Linked DNA regions of Homo sapiens: region 1 is linked to region 2. Evidence: fine-mapped expression QTL. Tissue or cell type: CD4 T cells. Region 2 holds a variant in brackets; the other region holds the start of a gene. All regions are shown on one strand. Distances are between the middles of the regions.

Region 1 (8,188 bases), 640 kb after region 2:
TCTCAAGCTTCAGCACAGATCACTAACAAAACAGCAGTAAGAAAAAATTTAACAACATTGATCACAAATCATAAGACTATAAATATGAGGACCAGCACATAGCCCTTTCAAATATTGGTAAATAAAAATCACATTCATCATTAAAGTTTATATTATGAAAGGACAAATTTTAGGCAGAGAAATTGGTACAGTAGAAGCTGTGAGTTCTAATTCTAGCTATCAAAACATTTATTTTCATTTTTTTCATGGCCCTAACCTGAAGCCCACCAAAACATTTTCAAGAAAGAAAAGAAAGAAAGAAAGAAAGAAAGGAAGAAAGAAAGAAAGAAAGAAAGAAAGAAAGAAAGAAAGAAAGAAAGAAAGAAAGAAAGAAAGAAAAAGAAAAACAGGTAGTATTTTCAGAGTGGCTATTTAAGAAGAGACCACTAATGGAAAAGCACTTGGAAAAAAAACATCAATTTTTAAAAATTCTTTCAAAATAGTGAAAATATTTTGTAACCACTAATCTCAAAGACCACTAAAAACAAGTAAAAGATGAACCAAAACATCTCTGGAGGAATACTAACTGAACACTAAGCAGAAATAAAATGGCTTAACTGTCAAAGTACAACACAACAATGAAAACAAAATGTTTAGCTGCACCTAGATGCTCATCTTAGAGGCTTCTTTCAAATATTCTTACTTTACCATTTGCAACTTGCAAAAAGTAAGTCATCAATACTCTTTAAGAAGAGTTAACTAGGGTGTGACTTTTCTGAAACCATCCTTGACCTTACAAACAAACCATTAACCTTGCCAACTTTGTAAGATAACCCATAATTCGTTCAGTAAGACAAAAATGTGTTTCTCTTTCTAGTATCAGTTCTTTTAATAGCAATCCACCCCCTTAAAGTGCAGCACTCATTATCTTTCCATTTCTGCTAGTAAAAATTAAACCTAGGTTACTAATATCTTCTTATCACGTGGTGTCATCCTTCTACTTTTAGAAAAATACTCAGTTTCACTGCAAATATGACCGACAGTAAGTGGAACTAAAGGTCAACATGCAGCCTTTACAAGAAATTTGTCTCTTAGGAAGTATCATCAAAATGGAACAGGTGTACACTGTGGAATTGGCTAATCTTTGGGAAGGCTTAAAACCAGGTACTCATTTTGATAGGCTGGTGACAAAATCAAAGTTCTCTCTGGAGGAAAGGAGCTGATCCCCCACCTCACCCCCAGCTACAAATCAGCAAAGAAATTTTAAACCCTGTACATAAAGCTTTATTACTCTAACCATATTAAGTACTTTTGAGTTAATTTTATAATAGCTCTCTAAAATACACAGAAATATACAAAGAAAATAAGCAAATTCATTGACTGTTATATAATATCAATAAATATATCTTATACACTGAAATAATTACTAACACTTTCATTTGCAATTAAATAAACTGTTAGCAAAAGCATATTCTATACATCAATTATTATCAAATTAACAGGTCTCTGTATTCATTAACTCTTATATTCCATCCTGTTCATTTTACTTTTCAGTTTATAATGCATTCACAGTTACATAATTAAAACACTGAGGATTCTGTGACACATTCATTAAACTTAATAGTGTAATCATAAATCGCGGCCAAAAGCTTCTGCCGTAATAACCAATACTATATTTTGAAATGACTGGGAAAATAAACTTTGCAAAAGGGTCATTTCTACCTCTATAGTGTCAATCCAGCATTACAGGATTTGAGAAAATAAAACAACTAACAACCCTAAATTGTAGGTTGGCTCTTCGGAAAAAAAAAAAAAAGGAAAATGAGTCTAGTAACATCAGAAATATGCAAGAATTGTTCTTTCAGCTAGGAGCGGCAAGCACACTGTAAAATGCCTCCATTCTTCCTGCTCAAATAAAAAGTTCCCAGCTCCAGCTTTACCTGTGCACCACACACACACAAACACACACACACACACACACACACACGGAAATCTTGGTTCCACCCAAATCAGTAACCCACTGGGTTGAAAACTGAGGTGGAAGGAGAGGCAGGGAGTCCCTAAGCGTGTGGAACACTAGCAAGGGGAAAAGGACGGGGCCATCATTCCCTTCGCGTTCCCATCTCCTTTCTGGCGGAGACCTGCAGATTCCACCACTAGAGAGAGTTTGGCAGCTTCACAATGGGGCCGCGTTGCTGGAGGTCTGACTGCCACCCGCCTCGAAACCCCTCTCCTCCGCTTCCCACCTGCCCCAAAGTCCACCCGCGACAGGTGGGGCGAGGGTGGCAATGCCCGACATCTGCCGCTTAAGCTTCTGGCTCGGACCGGGCCCCAATCCACACGCGCACACACGGCCACAGCCGGCCAGTCCACCCCCACTGCACCGGCAGACACTCGGAGGGCGCGGGCGGCCTCGCACGCGGGTTGCAACCAGGACGAGGAGGGTCGGCGAGATCAGACCGCCGGGGCTCGCCCTGAGGTGCTATCTGACCCGGGCAGTCGCACCCTGAGCGCGGCCGGGCACGCAGCCAAAGGTGCCGCCGGCCGGGGAAAGCTACTTCTCAAAGGGGCCTCCAGGCCCGCTGCCCCGCGGTGCGGGAACAGCGGCCAAGGGAGGGAGCGAGCGAGCGTGCGCGCCAACGCGCCCCGACTTCCGCACCGCGGCACCGCGGGAGAGGCGCTCCGGGTCGCCGAGTCCCCGCACCTCCCCAGCGAGCGCACGACGCGCGCACACGGGGGCGCACGCCCCCGCACACTCACACGCGCTGCACACTCACGGCGTCTGCGGCCCCACCCCTGTGCCAGGGAACCGCAAGCTCCCCGCACCCCGCGCGGGCCCCACCCAGTTTACCAGACCCCAGTCCCCTTCGGGTGCCTGGGAACCGGTCCACCAAGGCCAAGGGACGCTGGGGCCGCCCCGCCGCCCATCGCAGAAGCTGGTCCGGCCGGGTTTCCCCAGCACCGCGGGCATCGTGCGCCCGGCCCAGACACGAGGCGGAGAGGAAGGGGCGGCGCCGCGATTAGGGCTGGCACTGGGGATCGGAGCCTGGGGCAAACCCACTCCCCCAAGCCCCCCATAACCACCACCTTTTCTGCAGCACAAAAGGTTACAGACGGAGCCGTCGTCCCCGTGCAACCTACCGATGGCCCAGGGCTCCGCTGCCTCCGCCGTGCCCGGGGCTGCGGAGCGGGAGACAGGGGCGGGAGAGGCGCAGGACTGCGGCGCCGAGATCCAGGCAGAGGCCGCCAGCCGAGCCAGCCGGGTACCCTCTCCTCTCCCACCGCGCTCGGCGCCAGCTACCGCCCTGCTTAGTCCCCGCCCCCTCCTCCGCCTCCTCCTCCGCCTCCTCCTCCGCCCGCCTTCCCGCCTCCTCCCTCTGGCTGCAGAGGCGCAGCCCGTCAGCGCTGAGCCCGCCTCCTGCGCCCAGCTCTCAGACACCCGGAGGAAGGGCGGGCCGGCTGGCTGCAGAAAGGCGCTAAGAGGCCAGAAGAAGTTGGCGGGGGTGGGCGGGGTTGTTGACTGGTGGTGGGGAGGAGGAGTCGCAACACCCGCTCTCTAGTCTAAACCCAGCACTCCAACTAAAGAGCTCCAACTTGCGGACCTGGGAACACTCCGGCTTCCTCAGTTAAGTGGTGTGCTGATATTTGTCACTTGTGAGTCTCTGCTTAAAGGGCTCAGCACTAAGCAAAAGTACAGAAAACTAGAAGGCCATGAAATTAAAAATTATAGGATCAGTCTACGAAAACTCGTAATACCCAGTGAAGGTGGCGGGGTGGGGCGGGGGGGGGAGTTCAAATTCAGATTCTGATTGGATTAACTATTTTTTAATTTGCACAAATGTTGATCTTGTCTATTATTGTAATAAATTATTTTCTTTGATGAAGATTTGCTTCTCTCAATTCATGTACATTTCTGCCGAACTGGTTAAGCTCAGCAATAAGAATATTTACTGGCATGCATATCCAAATTTACATCTCTCAATAACCATTCTGTGAGGAAGTAACCAATTATGATCCACATTTTAAAAATGCAGAAAGTTTAGGTCATATGCCTACTGAGTGGCTAAGGCTGAATGTGTACGCAGTCGGTGAACCCCAAAATTGTTTATAAGTGTTATAAATTTCGGTACCAGTGTCCAATCAAGAGAGTTTTATTTTTTAAAAGACAAAATGCTTTATCTTAACATAAAAGACATAAATCTGGAGTAGATTAATATAAGTTTAAACGAGTCTTGATTCACACTTGTTCCAGAATCTACATATGTTCCTGATAATATAAAGGCAAAAAATATATAAACACCTCTAGTCCAACAGAACCACTCCCGGAGGCCGCTCAGCTATAAGCCATTTTATGCTACTGCTTATGTGCCCTAAAATAAGTAAAGGAAGGTAGAGGGAAGAATAAGTTTTAAGGAATGTTCCCTAAACAATTTTACAAAACATCAGTTACTTTTTTTCCCGACATAGATTTGCATGTAATTTCAAAAATATAGAAGCTAGCACAACATAATATGAATAAATAAATGAAGAAACTTTTTTTGCATCAGTACATTAGGAGAATACACCGAGAATTATTTCCGATTATAATCTGTTTGACACAATAGTGTATTGTCCTGATGATCATTCTCATAAAACCACCTCCAAAACATTGTATATTTTATATTAAGAGACTTAATTTCATTTCTTCCTGTCTGAAATCTTATAACTTTTTCAGAAGAATGTCTTGTACTTGCCCTTTGCGCTGAGAGTTTGGCAGTGTGCTTTGGCCAAAAGCAATAAAGTTCCCCTCTTAGTTTATTAGGCTCAAGGCTAGCTCTCTTGAGGGCATTGTCTCCAAATTGCCTCCCTCCCTGGGTGGTGTTCTATGCTCCCATCCTAACCCTGAATCTTCACCCAATCAGAACCTAAGTCAGTTCTTGAGTGTCACAAAGAACACCTAATAAACCAATTCACCATGCAGTAATGGTTGATAATAGCTTTATGTGTGGCTCCATCAAGGATATGTTTATGCCACCTAGAGATACTGACTGGGTATTGTCTTCACTCGGATTGGATGTGGGTTGCAAGTGCCGTGGCTGAGGGGCATATAAGAGGTGCAAGTTAATGCAGAATCCCTTCCCAGAGCTTTTTAGTGTTTTAGGAAGATCTCTTCAACCTATAAAGAAAAATGGCATTCATATAAAGGGTTAGGCCCAAATGTAGAATAGACCCAGAGCCCTGAAAGGCCTTCTGAATTTGGGGACTCAGAAGCTCCATCTCACACACTCCTTGTGTAAGTTATGTCTTTGCCTCAAGGCATCCTTTCCAGAAAATCCCTTTAAAATGACTTTAAAATGTCAGCTGCCTGGGAAATATTATACTACGTTGATGTAAATGATGTCGGCTAGCAAACAACCAGCTTGAGAGAACAGAATAGGTGAATTTGATAACAACATAATGATGTAAAACAGAATCTACAAAGACAGGTGTGCAAGAAATACCACATTACCTTCTTTTCTATAAACTCATTTGTTTCAAGCAGGGTCTAACCAGGAAAACAGAAACCATTTTGAGTATCTACAGAAGTAATTGAATGCAAGAAATTGGTAACGTAGGTGATAGGAAAAGTCAGAAGCTAATCAGGAGATGGCACAGTAATCCAGAAACTAGCAACTGCGACCTCTAGCTGGAGAAATAAGAGAAGAGGCAGGGTTATTGGAGTCCAGGGCCCAGGCAGCATGGCCAGCCTGGTGAGAGCTGCGGCCATAGAGGAGAAACAACCACTGCCAAAGAAGCAATCTAGGGAGGGAGAAGGGGGAAATGTACTATACGTTCTCCTCTCCTGCCCTCCAATCTCCTTCCAGTGCCTTGCATTGGCCAAGTCTGATACACCTGCCATGGGAGCCAGGGAAACAGCCTACGGGGATCAGCCCTTTGAGACACTGAGGAGACTAGGAGAAGAACATAGAACGTGAATCTGCACTTGATTTTATTTCTCTTTAAAGGCCTTACTCTTTTGTAAAGTTCTTCCCTCATTCCCTCGAGCAGGGTCAAAGTTCCAAGAGCATATGCCAGACCAGACCATGAATGGGTGATGATGGCAGGGAGTGGAGGGGAGGTCCTTCGGATTGCAGTCATCTGTCCACAGAGGTTTCCTTTGTTCCTTCCTGGAGCTGCCACCTATGGTTCCATGATACAGTGCACAACCTGCCTATAGACGAGACGGCCCTGCCCTATACACTGGTTCCCTCCCTTTGGCTCCGGCACCACACCTGAGGCCAGAGGAATTTCCTAGATCTGGGACCATCCTGCTAAGCCTCACACATCCTCGGTCATTTATGTTTAGGGTATTATGGTGGTCCAAGTTCAGGGCTCAAATCCCACTGCCTTGGGACATACTGACTTCTATCCTCTTCTTTCCAGATACAAGGGAATCACTTCTTAAGGAAAATCCTTCCTCTTCATTTTTTTTTTCCCAGACACTCTGCCATTGCCAGCAAACTCTATTCTGTCTCTGGGGGCTCAGGTTGTTTTCAGTAAGAGCCAGAATGAAAAAATGATCTGCAGGCAACTCCTCTCTACCCTGCCACATCTCTCCCGAAGGCAACAAGGGGGTAAATACAAGTTGGAAAAAAAATCATAAATTAGTATCTCAAAATATTATCCAGCCATAGAAGTAAGAGACGGTTAGTATTGTGGACCAAGCTGAGGAGGAGAAAGGTGGAAGGAGCTTACTTTGGAATATGTTGAATTTGGTGACTCTGTGGCACATCCTCATGGAGGTGTCAAGCAGAAGGCCAGATATGTGGAGTGGGCGCTCAGGAGGGAAATTCAGGCTGCCCTTCAGCTCTTGCTAGACCACTTCTAACTCCACACTCACATTCTGCTTATTCATTATTTAAGCCTGTACATAATTGTTTCCTGTGGAGCATTCTTCTCCACCCCTCCCTCTCAGTCTAATTCTTTGCCATTCCTCAGATTTCATGTAGATGTCACCACCTCTAAGAAGAGTTTTCTGATTCCTACTGATATTTCTCATTTCCCTGGCCTAATACCACACAGTGCTGAAATATACTATCTCCCCCTCTAAACTATACATTCCCTGAGGTCTCAGACTATGTCTAACCCCCAAAGAAAGCCCAGAGACTGACATATAACAGGTGCTCAGTAAATATTTAGCCTATTTTTACTGCGAGGAGTGGGAGAAGAACCTGTAGTAAGGTCTGCTGAAGCCAGCTTGTATCTTGTATCTGGCTCAGAAGTACTGATTGCTAAATTTTCAGGAACTTTGCAAACTGGTTGTTAAATCATCAGTAGCTTGAAATCAGCTATGGTAGGAGTATTTACACCATAGAAATTGGCAAATTCTATAAACAGGGCTTCCCATTTCTCTCTAATCTCCCCACCCCCCAGAAAGCCAGTTTACCAGCATACCATTTGATAATCTTCAAAGGGCCCCTCCTGTGTGCGGAGGAGGACAGCAGTTCAGAGAATTAAAATCTGTGCTTTTAGAAATATTCTTTCATAGAAAGAAAATGTAATTAAATTCCATAATTTGCATAGAAAAGCCTATTTAACTCAATTATATCAATAAAAAAAGAAGATAGAAAATAGAGGAAACAAAAATATAACAGCATTATAAACAACAGAGAAATCACTTCTCAGTTCCAGCTTGCTGTGGGACCTCCGGTTGGTCACTAAATTATAAGCTTCTTAAGAAACTTGAGTTGTGTTTATACGTGTATCCTTTACAATATCTAGACTGGCACAGAACAGGTACTCATAAACTACCACTTGAATCTGGGCAAATTAAACTTTACTTCTGTTGGCCTCAGCCCCTTCATTCATAAATTAAGAGGTGAGAGAAATGGTTTTCAAGAGGGCCCAAGTAGCACCCCCTTTCCTGCCCCATTCCAAACAAATTGAGAAATAAAAGGCATAAAGGTGGCGCCAATTGTTTCTGTAACATTGGAGGACATAGTTTAATGTACAATTACAGTGGTTCTATTTTTTAAATCCCATAATTAGACTGATATACCTACCCAATAAGAGGCAAAACCGGGCCAGGCAGGCCTCCTCACATCAAAGCCTGCCAAGGTAAGACTTAGGTTTTAAGGAACAGAGAACACCTACTCCCACGCAGGCACTTTATTGCCAAGAAGGTAATGAAAACAGCTAGGTTGAGCATGCCCAGTTTAATTCTCCAATGAGATACTCTCCTCCTGCCTTG
Region 2 (8,188 bases):
ATCACTTTTGTTGTAAAGCATTTTCTCAATTATCTTCTTTCATAGATATTCTTAGAATCACAAAAATCTTAACACATTTTTCTTGCCTCAGATGAACTATTGTTTAAAACAAGACTTAAAAAGAAAAGTAATTTAGGTGCTTCTACTAAAGATGTTCTTAAAACATCCCTAATGCTTTTTAAAAAACCAGTTTCACAGACTTTGCCCAATTTCCCTATGGAGCATTTACGCATGATTTGAGTTTTATCTGGTACACCTATTATAACAGCAGGAATTCTTAATATAGGTATACATTTAATAGCCACATTGTGAACAGCATGAATAAAGGAATAACATGACCTCAAATCAAAATATTGGCACAATGCCCTGAGCACCCAAAGGCGAGGAAGGAGCCTTTGACTCCAGGTTTCATAAACGGTACTCAGCAAAATTTCAGTTGACTTATTGCAGTCAAGTCTATGTTGAAAAGCAAACTCATGGTATAAAAAGATATCAGACCACAGAGCAAAAACAAGGAGCTAGGTCTCAATACAAGCACTCTACTACACATCATGTGAATGAATAGCCAAAACTGTAGTGTTATTAAAATAAAATAATATTTATCACAAATTTTTTATATTATTACAGACTTCAAATGACAATATGGCAATTTATCTAAATTTTAAAAATGTTATTTTAAAAAATTCCCTCTATTAGATATGATTCATTTTCCAAATATATATTTTAACAACTTAGAGAGTACTAGGTTTGGAGAAAGATTTTGAGATAGCTTTCCTGTTTCCCAGAAGGTAAGATTTAGAAATACATCAGTCATGGATGTCAATTTATGATGGTTCAAATTGCCAAAGGTATTTGGTAAACTTGTGTCACTGTCAGAGATGTAAAGGTTGCTCAGCAGCTCCAATACAAATCAGTTACAACAGTGTTACACAAATGTGAGAATATGTGGGTGTGTTTATTCATGACAGTTCAATCTTCTGATGTATCAGCATTCAGTTACATAAAACGTTAACAATAGCAATCACAATAACAACATCAGTATAAGATGCCAAATACGATAAATATTTATTCACTTTCAGTATTATTCAAATTTAACAGCTCAGAGCTGTTTTGCAGCTTTGTGATACTCCACCATTCTCAGTCCTGCCTCATTGCACAAGATGGCTGCTTGTGCCCTAGTCATCCTATCCACATCCCAGGAAAAAAGAAAAGGGAATAAGAGAAGGGATATCTCAAAATCCCTTTGAGCATATTTCCTGAAAGTTACATGTAATACTTAGTTTTCATTGATCAAAATATTTTCATTTGTCCATAGTCATTGGTAGGAGGAATCCAGTCTTTGAGGAGGGCAGCAAGGTAGTCAGCTAAATTTGAGAGTTCTTATTATTTGGAAGAGAAGAAAAATTGACATTTAAAGTGGAGAGAATCTTTTTTTTTAACTTTAGAAAATATTAAAACAGATACCTTAGGCTCCTATAAACTAAAATTATAGATAATAACATAATTAACATATAAACAATCAGACTATTATTTACTATAATGCAAAAAAAGTTAAAAGTGTTAATTAAATTTTCACTTTTAAACTATTTTGTTGACATTCATAAATATAAGTGAAGAAATATTTGTATATATCAAAGAACATCCAAAACTTTTAAAAACTGTATAATTATATTCTATTAGTAGTAGGAAGAGAGGAGAGGGCTGTTTTTTTTTTTCTTTTTTAAGTGAAAAGTTAACTTAGAAATAATTTCATCCCACTCCTAAATCAGAATTAATACTCACAGTTGGGAGTTATACTGTCATATTTGAGAGCCACTGATTTGAACATACTATTTCTGGAAATGATTTCTTTTTAGTAATTACTAACAGTTTATGAAAAGATCTGCAATTTTATTTTTCCAAGTGTTCAAGTAATCTTAACTCATCAAAATGCTAAAATCTTGTATATCAAAGGCATCTAAGACTTACTCATGTAAATGGCCTGCCTGTTCTCTGACAGCTGGAACCTCTTAGTACAGCTCTGCAGCCTCAGCCCCACCCCCAGCACTGGCACTGATCTACTTTCTAAGCAGGAATTCTTAGCTCATTGTCCAACTTTAACCTCCACCCTGACCTGGCAGCCAGGTTTTCCTAGCTGAGCATCTGTACTTTACCTAGTCCCAGGGTTTTCTCATACTAGGCTCTTCAGGAATCCTTCCACAGAATACTGCTGAGTCCCCATCAAGACTGAGAATTAATCTTCCATTAATAGGAACCCACTACCTTACCAAGTAGCCTTTTATGCTGTTTGTTTGAACATCCATTCATTTACTTAGTAAATCAACATTGAAAGGTGACTACAAGGTCAGACATGATGCCAGGCCCTGGTAACAAAGATCAAAGACACAATCACCTGCCCTCTTGTGGGACAGGTAGCCGTAATTGTTAAAATGATTTAAAGACTTAGATTCACTTCCCTAAGAATTTCCATTCACTGTTCTTCATTGTTCTTAAGTCTGAATTCTAGTCACATGGAATAAATTTCATTTAGACTTTCACAGATGAGTCCTCCAATCTGGAATATTTTGAATAAGATATTCAAGCTTGTAAAACCCTGTTACTTTAACCTTAAAAGAAGTTGTTTTTAGTTTATTCACTGTCTTTTGGGATAAGTCTCACTTTGAAAATATCCTTCTTCACATGCAGGATTGAGAAATTAATACAGTACAAGAAAACTTTCTAGTATGTTTTACCTCTACTTAACAAAGCTGAGTTATTTCATCTAGAGTAGCATGTCACAATTGTTGGTCCCTCCTCCGAAAAAAAAAAAAATGCAAATATAGGACCTTTACAGTTTGCTTTTAAGCTAGTGATGATTTTAATTTCTGAAAGTTCTAGTCGCCTGAACTTCGGTGCCTTCCTTTAAGGTATCATCTGTGAAACAGTCTGCTATAGTGGGTGTTGAAATTGGATTCACATACTGTTCTTCACTTGCTATGAGAACTTGAGAAAATTAATATTCGAAACCTCAGTTATAAAATCATAAAAACAAGGGCCTTTACCCCTTAGAGTTTGTGAAGGTTACAGCCAATATATTTAAAACACATTGGCTGTCACAGTATAAGAATTTGATATATGTGAAAAACCAAAGTTAGGTGTCTTTTTAGTGATGAATGATTGATATATAGCTTAGGAATTATTCATCAAAATTAGAATTTAAGTTGGATAAAAATTATCCAATATAGTCCTGCTGTTTAATTCAATTCATTAACCACCCAATATGTGTTATGTTTTGTGTTAGGTGCTAGTGATTCAAAAATGAATTATGTATCCTAAAGTCAAGGAGCCCAAAGTCTAGTGAAGAACCTGACATGTATAGAAACGGTTACTCCACGATCACACAAATAATGCTTGACGGGGCAGTACTCCTGACCATCACATCCCATTGCATTGCAAAATACTGTGCTCCTCGCAGTGTTTCTCACAGCATTTAATGAGCATTCAACAAATATTGATTCATGAATGGATACAGGTTTCATACTCAAATATTTTAGGCAAAGAGTAATGTTGGCATTGTTCACATATGATATTTTTAGTTTTGAGCTTTGTGAATTAACTTCTTTTTATATTGCAGATTTACATGCATTTGGTATTTCTTATTTCTTGAAATTTAAATAATGGAGAAAAGGCACCATCAACACCTTCCAGAATAAATGTTTAGAAAGTTGATAAAATAAGGTTAAGTAAATATGTATTTATATAGTATTATAACAACTTTTAAAGGAAGTCGGGTTGGAAAAAATGGTTTGAAGGATATGTACCAAAATAGTTTAAAAAATAATTATCCTGGATAGTGAGATCATGAGAGATTTTGTTAATGTCCTTATACTTTAAAAATTTTTAAATACTTTTCATTGAATGTGTACATTAAAAGAGAGTTATGATAAACTCTAGCAGCAGAAAAGAAACTGGTAAGGTCCCAGGAATATGGACGATGGAAGATTAAGAAGCAACATGAGGAACCTGGGTGTGAGGGGGCCACAAGCTACAGAATAAGATTATCAGTAGAAGGTATTACAATGGTAATAAAGCATAGTTTTTCTACTTCGATAGTATCTAGATCTCTTCACATTTGGGGGCAGGTCATATCTCATTTTGTTATTGAGAAGGTCCATTGGCCAATGGGATAATTAAAGCATATTGACTGTAACCTATCTGCCCAGAATTTAGGTAAAAATATGGGAATGAATCTTGTTGCAACTTTAAAAAAATGAGTGGACTGTCCTCAAGCATAGTAATCTAAGTAATGTATCACAAAAAAATTAATTAATCTCTGAACCATGCACACACAGCTTTGATTTACCAACAAAGCAATGCATTTTCTAAACTCAAGATGTTTGTTTTTAAATACTGTGAGAGTCAGGATGGGACCAGGCTTGGTGGCTAACACCTACAATCTCAGCACTTTGGGAGGGTGAGGTGGGAGGATCTCTCTTGAGGCCAGGAATTTAAGACTAGCCTAGGCAACCTAGTGAGACCTTGTCTATACAGAAAAAAAAAAAAAAAAATTAAAATTAGCTAGGCATGGTAGTGTGCACCTGTAGTCCCAGCTACTCCAGTGGCTGAGATGGGAAGCTCACTTGAGCCAGGAGTTGGAAGCTACAGTGATCTATGATCATTTCACTGCACTCCAGCCTGAGTGACAGAGCAAGATCCTGTCTCAAAACAAGAACAACAACAGAAACATAAAAAATATAAATACAATCAGAGTCAGGATAAATACTTATAGAATTAATGAACAAATTAATCTTTTTATTGTTGCTGTTACCTTAAATCCTTTTTTTTTT[TC/C]TTTTTTTTTTTTTTTTGAGACGGAGTCTCGGCTCTGTCCCCCCGGCTGGGGTGCAGTGGCAAGATCTCGGCTCACTACAAGCTCTGCCTCCCAGGTCCACGCCATTCTCCTGCCTCAACCTCCAGAGTAGCTGGGACTACAGGCGCCTGCTACAACGCCCAGCTAATTTTTTGTATTTTTAGTGGAGACGGGGTTTCACTGCGTTAGCCAGGATGGTCTCGATCTCCTGACCTCGTGATCCGCCCGCCTCGGCCTCCCAAAGTGCTGGGATTACAGGTGTGAGCCACCGCGCCCAGCCCTTAAATCCTTTTATCTGAAATAATTTAAAGGTGACAGGTATATAAATTGGCAGAACTACATAATTTTAATTAAAAGTATTATTTGATTTCCCTTGATGAGGCAGAATGTCTTCCTCTAAATTCCCAAAATATCAAATTAATATCTTAATTGTCTAACTTCCGCATTCTCTTTTGTAGTATAGGTGTTTACTTACGCATTTTATTATAATTTCCCTACTGCTAGTTCTGTGAGTTTGTGATCTGTGCCTTATTCATCTGTATATTCCCTAAGAGCAGAGTTAAATTATTTTTTAGAACTGGTTTTATAAAAATACAGTAAGTAAAAGCATTCCCTCAAAATTCTAAGAATATTTTGTGGACTCAATCAACATTTATTAGAGTACTATAAAATATTTTTCATTTTATGAAACTAGGATTGTGGAAACCTGCATTCCAAAGCTCCACCTCACGAGTGGTCTGTGATCAACAAATATCAACCTTTTATCTATTCTCAGTATTTTCTTTGAATACAATGCTTTTTTTGAATACAATGCTTTCTTTCTTCCGTGCAATTGAATTCTGTCATCATCCCTCTGCACATTCCAGATGGGTGGAGCTAGGGAAAGCCTTCATGGAAAGGGTTTCATCTTTCTGAACATTCACCACACTGGTAAGTTCTATAGCAAAGACTTTCTTGGATTTTGTTGAGTTGTAGTTTTCTTTTTAATAATGATATGGTTAATCCATTAAAATAATAATGTTACACCAAATCTGATTTCATATTTCTTTTCCTAAAGTAGAAAATTCTCAAGTTGTTTAGTGAAGTGCTAAATGCTTTATATTGACAGACTACCGCTGTTCAGCAATCTATATTTGCAGCCTGTCAAACGAAAACAATAGTTGGATCCTCTTTGTTGTTCACGGTACTTTAAATTACAAATGATGTTGATTTTAATCGTCTTTGCTCTATTCACTCACAAAGCTGGATGCTGTACAAGTCAGCTCTCAGATTTTGTATAAAATACTTTTTATTGGGCTTAGCACTTGCCAGCACTTTACACCTTCAAAATACTTTGTAAACATTAACTAGTCAATTCTTACAAAAAAAAAAAAAAGTAAGAAGAAAACAAATCCTGATGGTAGGTGTAAATCAGGTCTAGAGAAAAGAGTTTTTCTATAGCTTAAATTTGAAGGCAAGGTATTTATTCGGCTGTTTATTTTTAAACCAATAGAGTATATTTCAGGAAATGATGATCAGTTCTTCACTTTCCATTATAACAAAGCACATAATTTCAATTTTATTAATCATACAAAATATAGAAGTATTAATATTATTAATGACCAGTAGAACGTATGCCATATGACAAAGCTCCTAAATATATTGAATGCAGCTTTGGACCCTACACAAAGAAAATGTTTTGTGACAGTTAATAAAACTCAACTTGTCTCAGAGGATTGACATGTATGGGTCACTGCTTCTTTCTGTCCTGTAAGTAGCAACAGCTTCACTGGTATAGATACAGGTAAGACTAGCTTGGTCCAAACCTAAATGAGTCCCCAAGTTCACATTAAATATATAAAAATATATAGCACAGCAGGGTCAAACTAATGTATTATTTAAAGAGAGCACTATAAATTTTGTGTCTGCTTTTCTAAGTAAAATATATCTTCTGGCTTCATTGGTTCTGCTCTTCCTCCATTCACTTTTATAAAAATTCCCTCATTTTAACCAATGCTTTCAAAAGGAAAAGTTTGTATATTCCTCTTGGAAAATAACATGCTTACTCTGATCATAAAAGAAACTCCATGATAAGCCTAAAATATTATTAATAGTAAATGTTGTATTGAGTATTGATTGGGGATTTTTCAATCATGTCATAATGAAAAGGAAAAAAATTGTAATTTTGCCATTTAAAAATTTGGAAATTGAAAACAGAAAGACAAAGGTTCATATCAAGAAAAAACTTCAAGGCTGAGGTTATGGAGGGAAACAGTTTCAATTTGATAGCTGATTGTGCTGTGACCATAACTCAGAAAGCTGTCTGTGATATATATTAAGGAAAGCCTGCACTATATTTTCAACAATTAAACAACTAGAATGCCATAAAATATACTCTTAAAAAATTTAGACAAATTAAATTTAGCAGAGTTTGAGCAAATAATGATTCACAGATCAAGAAGCACTCAGAACCAGAAGAGGTTCACAGAGCTCGACCCAGCAATGTGGGCAGGCAATATTTATAGACAGAAAAAGAAACTGACATACAGAAATAGATTGGTTATGGCTAGGTGTTTCCCTTATATGAGCCTGGTCTGAATAGTTGGCGGCCTCTGATTAGCTCAAGTGTGGCTGCTGTGATTGGCTGTGACTCAGCTATTTGTTATAAGAATATACTCTTAATTTAGGTTGCAGTTTGTTTACATCCTTAAGTTAGGTTGCAGTTTGCTTATATACTAAGTTAGGTCATAGTTTGCTATCCACAGAGACAGCTTTAGGCCAAATTTAATTTTATTTCACATTAGTCACAATTAAAAGCTATATGCCTAAAGGTTTAGATTTTAATTAGGAAACACTGCAAGTTTACTGATGTATTGAAAATAATGTTTTTACATTCCTTAAGAAATCTTTATCAAGGGAGGACAAGTTAGAGACTGAAACTTGAGATAAGTTACTGAAATTGCAAAATAAAAGCTATGGATAAACCAAAGTGATCTCACAATCTTCAGACTCCTTTCTTCTGTGTAAGCATCACAAGATTTACTTATGATAAATTAAAGGTAATATTATGCACATCCATCAGAGTTTGTGACATATTTAGGACAATTTTTTTTTTTTTTTTTTTGACAGAGTCTCGCTCTGTCTCCCAGGCTGGAGTGCTCGGAGCGCTGCAAGCTCTGCTCACTGCGCTCTGGCACCGCCTCCCGGGTTGTCGCCATTCTCCCGCCTCAGCCTCCCGAGTAGCTGGGACTACAGGCGCCCGCCCCCGCGCTCGGCTAATTTTGTTTTTGTATTTTTAGTAGAGACGGGGTTTCACCGTGTTAGCTAGGATGGTCTGGATCTCCTGACCTCGTGATCCACTCG

Direction of the effects. Alleles are on the strand shown, and positions count from the first base shown. SD is a standard deviation of normalised expression in the study named.
For the expression in CD4 T cells of the gene that starts at base 3,254 in region 1, allele C in region 2 goes with a lower level than allele TC (large effect, 1.6 SD a copy in Kasela 2017).

Evidence for each region. PIP is the estimated chance that this variant, and not a neighbour inherited with it, causes the effect.
Region 1: it holds the start of MACIR, and the variant in region 2 is fine-mapped to the expression of MACIR in CD4 T cells (Kasela 2017, PIP 0.95).

Annotation. Positions count from the first base shown.
Region 1 is chr5:103,253,829-103,262,016 of GRCh38, reverse strand. MACIR (macrophage immunometabolism regulator) reads right to left here and starts at 3,254. Exons shown (of 3, transcript NM_033211.4): 1 at 3,121-3,254. RefSeq lists silencers at 2,494-2,873, 3,084-3,593.
Region 2 is chr5:103,888,920-103,897,107 of GRCh38, reverse strand. All of the region lies in intron 3 of LOC105379107 (a long non-coding RNA gene), which reads right to left. It overlaps LOC101930276 (a long non-coding RNA gene), which reads left to right and starts at 5,711. Exons shown (of 3, transcript XR_427752.4): 1 at 5,711-5,776. The variant TC/C (reference allele first, on the strand shown) is at 4,827.